Regions from separate parts of the Homo sapiens genome. Here region 2 is linked to region 1. Evidence: fine-mapped expression QTL. A gene starts in region 1. The other region holds a variant in brackets. All regions are shown on one strand. Distances are between the middles of the regions.

Evidence for each region.
Region 2: its variant is fine-mapped to the expression of COL5A2 in whole blood (TOPMed, PIP above 0.99).

Annotation. Positions count from the first base shown.
Region 1 is chr2:189,178,295-189,181,218 of GRCh38, forward strand. COL5A2 (collagen type V alpha 2 chain) reads right to left here and starts at 1,467. Exons shown (of 54, transcript NM_000393.5): 1 at 1,214-1,467. The coding sequence starts at 1,310.
Region 2 is chr2:189,397,723-189,400,646 of GRCh38, forward strand. It overlaps a transcript of COL5A2 not described here. Among named protein-coding and RNA genes, the nearest start is that of WDR75, 42 kb to the right of the region's middle. The variant C/T (reference allele first, on the strand shown) is at 1,528.

The DNA.
Region 1 (2,924 bases):
TTCTGATCTCTAGATTAATTTTATAAACTTTTTGAAACCAAAAACACACAGAAGCAGATATTTGTTCTAAAAATATAGATATATACATAGTATATATACATATATACCTGTATGTATGTGTCTATATATGAAAGTAATAGAAAAGGTTAATGAATGTCCAAAGTTTTAAAAGCTTGAGTTTGATGTTACATGGTTGAGTTGATGAAAATCTACAGTGGCTTATTTTAAAGGAGTACATGTCTGTATTTGAAATTGCAACCCTCAAGATTAAAGATTTAATAGAGGAATCAATTTAAATATTTTCTTATATACTACAACAGCTATGCATTTTTGCTTAACCATACCATATAACCCAACTGTAACATATGAAAATTGCATAGGAAAAAAATGTGGTCACCAGGCAAGATTTATCTTTAAAAAAAAAAAAAAAAAAAAGCTTGGGTCTAAGGGGTAATGTCCATGCAAATATTCCATGCCAAATAAGATATATACAAGACATGCTGATTTCCTGCCTTCCGCCATCCAACCGGGAACCACCACTGTCCTGTTAATCAAGCCAGTAGGGTGGGAAAATACCACTGTTTAAGAAATCTGGCTTCTATCAGCCTCTGTCATGGAGAAACAAACGAGACTGCCTCCCAGTAAGCAAAAGTGATCACATTTTCACAAATGAAAATGGTAAAAAGAAGTTTAAATTGTTAAAGAGGAAAGAATGAGGAGCCAAAGACAAAGAAAAATCAAAGCTATCAGAGTTGCTGCAGAGGTTTTACTAAACAAAGAATTTTATGAAGCAGCTGAAGTTCAGTACAAAAAGACTCCACCCTACCCAGCTTCTGCCGCGACTTTTCCTTGCTCTGAAAACTCCAGCCCACAGAACAGAGCTCCTCTAACTAAAATGCCTTTAGTGCTCCGTTTTAAGCATTCACTCTTTTCTTATTTTAAACGTCCCACTCTCACACTCAGCCAAAAGGACTTATTGTAGGCTTTCCCAGAAAAATTTAGTAGTGTACTCTCTCCAACGGTGGATCTAGAAGCTCCGGATTTACAAACATCCCAATTGTCTTTCAAGTCGTTTTCCAGGTGCAAATCCGTCAGCCCCCTTCTCAAACTTCAAACCAGAACCTCCTCTTCACGCTCTTCCTGAGGCTTAACATTCCACCTATTTCCCAAACCGTGCAATAAACACTACAAGCAAAGCAAATGGCAAACTCACCATCCTCGTCTTCTTCCTGGGCTTTTATTGAGACAAATTGCCCTAATAAAACAATAAGAATGAGGAGAGGTCTTGCTTCCGCCCAGTTTGCCATCATGTCTAAATATTAGACATGTGGGTTCTCCTGAGAGTGAAAAGTAGATTCTGAGGTTATTGTAGCACCATGAAGTCAGCTGTGGGCTCTTCTTTCAGCACCAGCCCCAGGGCAGCCTCTGCAAACCCCCTTTTTCAGCACCAGCTCCAGCACAGTCTGCGAAAACTTTTTTCAAGCGATGCAGCTTTAAATAGGAAGAATGCTGCCTCCACTTCTTTTCCTGCCCCTTTTCAGCTTGTTCAGGCTCATAACCATCCAGTGTCTGCCAAGCAACGGTCTGATTGATGGTAAACAACCAAATCAGAACACGCGTCTCTGTGCCTGAACTTTCCCTATTTCATTTAACTTTTAAGCATAGATGGGGCTTAATAACAGAAACAAACATTTGTTTCTCTTTTCTTTTATTTTTTAAGAAAGGCTGTTAGAAGAAAAGGGTTCTATTTTCCCCTCCCTAACCCTTCCCCCCAGACACACACCCTTTAACTTTTCCCCTATAAGCTGAAAAAGACATTCCGAAGGAAATCCAGCCTTTTACCCTAGTTTTTTTACATTTAGATAATTCAAGACTCTCTTCTCCACCTTAAATCTTTAAACAATCACATTTTAACCCTTTCTTTTGACTGAATAGGGAGTATTCTTATCCCCTTCTCAGATTCGGTTTCTTTTCCCATACTCTGGAAGGAGATTATTAGAATGTTGCCCAGGTAAAGTCCAGGTTAGAAAACCATTTTGGATAAATGAATTTGTGATACATTGTAATTTGAATTAAGAAAGCATGTCCTTTCCTAATTTCTCCACATCTCTTGTTAAGGGGCCACATCTTCAGGTTCCTCTTGTCCCAGAGAGTTTTACCATGTTGAAAAATAGTCTACTAAGCAGTGCAGAGGAATGGGAAGTACTCTACCTTTGGATGAAAAAAGGCTTGCTTCTGCCTTTTGTGAGTGGTTCTGCCACTCAATAATTTTGTAAATGTGCATATAGTCCTTTATCTCTGTGCACTCCAATTTTCTCATTTGAGAAAAGGGCTTTACCCTGACCAGTGTACAGGGTTTAGTGACACTAAAATGAGTAATGTATTATTAATGAAGCTCCAAATTGCAAAGAGCTACATAAAAGCAGATGGTGGTATTATTAGCTTTAAGCCAGCTTTGCAGGGAATATGATAGCCCCAGTTGAACATGCATTTTAAGGAAAATTATCGATGAACTTTTGTGCCACCCTCACACTTGCCAAGATCTTAATGACCTCAGAGAGTTCTATACAATCTAATGTATTTGCCACCTTGAGTCTCCCTAGAATCAGGATGGATGTTCTATACAATACAAGTGAGTCAATTGTTTATAATTATTGGGCAACAGGTGCCTTGCACTGTGCTAAGCACTGGGCAGAAAGGATGACATAAAAGAAATAAAAGACATACCCATCACCTTCAAGGAACATATGTAGGTGTTGAGAAACTAAATTTACAAGAAATAAAGATATATAAGCCAGAGCATATAAATATGTGAGGGATGCATTAAGCCCGGAGAAAGGAGAAATTATCAAATGAGATTAGGCAAGCAAGACATTATTACTGTTCTTAATAGAAGAAATCCAAGAACCTTTGCATTTTAGCTT
Region 2 (2,924 bases), 220 kb after region 1:
AAGATTTATCAAACTTATTACTCTTCTATAAAATTAAATTTTGGCTTTTTAAAATTTCTTATAAACTTGTTTTCTATTTTATTAATTTCTATTCTTATCCTCATTATTTTCTTCTTTCCACTTTTTTAGTTTAATATTCTGTTCTTTTCCTATCTTATAAAGATGAATTGTTGATTTTTAGCTTTCTTCTATAATAAATTTATTCAAAAGTTTATCTCTAAACAGGGCTTTATATGCATTCCACAAATTTTAATATGTCATATTTTTATCAGCATTCAGTTCAAAATGTTTTCTAATGTCTGTGGTAATGCTTCTTTTAACCCATGGATTATTCATGATAGAACTGCTCAATTTCCAATCACTTAGAAATTTTCTAGTTGACATTTTTTTCATTAATTTCTAGTAATAATCCAATTGTGCTCACTGAATACATGCTGATATTCAATCTGATGTTCATCTGCTTTTCTATCTGATAAAATGTGTTGAGCCGGCCAAGCTATGGAAAATGTTTTATATAAGTTTTCTTCAGTTGCTGAGTGCAGTCTTCCATGTGTAAATACATATTTATATGTTAGATAATGTTTGCTATTGCTCAAATCTTCCATATTCTTCTCTCTGCTCAATCTGTTACTTAGAAATGTTATGTTAAAGTCTTCCACTTTAATTGTTGTTTTGTCCATTTAGTACTGTCAATGCTTGCTTTATATATTCTGAAGCTATTCCATTTGATACATATAATATGGAAATTATTATATCTTCCTTAAAGATTGAAACTTTTACCATTATTACTTATCTCTCTTTATCACCTATAATGCTTTTTTGTCTTGTAGTCCAGTTTTTCTGATGTTAATTTCATTATATCAGCTTTCTTCTGGTTGCTGTTTGCATGACATATCTTCTTCAATCCTTTTTCATTCGACCTTTCACTGTGCTTATATTTAACCTCTGAGTAGCAGAGCAAAATATTTATCTTTGCATCCAGTCTTACTATCTTTGTCATTTAATTGGTGTCATTCATCTGCTCACATTTAATGTAATGATTGATCTGAGTTAAATCATCTATACTATTGTTTTCTTTTTCTTGCATTATTTTGGATTGTGTGGTTGCTGTTATCTTTATTCCTCTCTATTCACTAGTTAGTTACACATTCTTTTTACTACTAGAGGTTATTCTATGATTACAATAAGCAATCTTAATTTTTTTAAGTCTAATAGTATTTTTACCATTTCTTAGACAATAGAACCATAGAATAATTGAATTCCATAAATTCTCTCTCATACTTTGTGCTGTTTTGTTATATACTTTTAAACCAGCAGCATATAGTTAGCATTGGTTAATACAATCAATATTCATTTGGATACATCCATATGTTTACTCTTATAGCTTTTTATTTCTTTCTGCATTTTTATGCTTTCAATAGGGATTATTTTCCTTCTGTGTGAAGTACTTCATTAGTGGTTCTTGTAGTACAGATCTCCTGAAGATAAATTCTTTCAGTCTTTGTTTATCTTAAAATATTTATTTTA[C/T]GATTTTTTTTTTTTTTTTGAGATGGAATCTTGCTCTGTCACCCAGGCTGGAATGCAGTGGTGTGATCTCAGCTCACTTCAACCTCCACCTCCCAGGTTCAAATGATTCTTCTGCCTCAGCCTCCCAAGTAGATGGGATTACAGGTGCCTGCCACCACACCCAGCTAATTTTAGTATTTTTAGTAGAGACAGGAGCTCACCATGTTGGCCAGGCTGGTCTCAAACTCTGACCTCAGATGATCCACCCAGCTCAGCCTCCCAAAGTGCTGGAATTACAGGCGTGAGCCACTGCACCCTGCCTACATTCGTTTTTGAAGGATATATTTTTTAGAATAGAATTTTGTGGCTGATTTATATATTACATATAATACTTTTTAGAACTTTGAGTTATAGTTTCAATGTCTTCTGCCTTCCATTGTTTTTGTTGTTGTTGTTTTGGTTTGGTTTTGGTTGGTTGGTTATCTGTTTGAAACAGGGTCTCACTCTGCTGCCCAGGCTGGAGTGCAGCAGTGTGATCATGGCTCACTGTAGCCTCAATCTCCCTGGCTCAAGAGAGCTTCCTGCCTCAGCCTCTGGAATAGCTAAGACTAGAGATACATGCCACCATGTCTGGCTAATTTTTGTATTTTTTTGTAGAGACAGGGTCCCATTATGTTGCCCAGGCTATTCCCAAACTCCTGGGCTCAAGCAATACTCCTGCCTTGGCCTCTGAAAGTGCTGAAATTACAGGTGTGAGCCACCACACCTGCCCTTCCATAGTTAAAAAGTCAACTATCAGATTTATTGTGGCCTATTTGACAGTAATACATCTCTTTATTTGATCTAATTTTATGTTTTTCTTTTTTGTTTGTTGATTGGTTTGGTTTTTTGCTATGGGTTTCAGCAGTTTTATTATTATTTGCCTACATATGTTTTTCTTGATACTTATCCTGCTCTGAGTCCTTTGCACTTCTCCAATATGTGGCTTGAATTCTCTAATTAGTTTAGAAATTGCTCAGCCATTATATTCTCAAACATTGCTTCTGCGCTATTCTCTTTCTTCTTCTGGAACTTCAACTACACATATGTCAGACCTTTGTCTCACATATTTCTTATATTCTTTTCTACATGTTTCTTTTATTCTATATAAACACTTCCTTATTCTCTACATGCCAAATTACTTTCTCTTTAGCCATACCAAATATTCCATTAAGCTACCCATTAACTTTTTTCAGTTATTTACTTTGACTTCTAGAATTTTTACAGGATATTTTTTTGCAATTGCTAGTTCCTCCTTGACGACTAATTAGAGTTATTATAAAGTCCATGTTAACAGAAGTATCTGGATCTCTTGAGAGTGTATTTCTATCATTCTTTTTTCTTTAACTTCAAAGAGTTTATTTTAATTATTAGTTGGT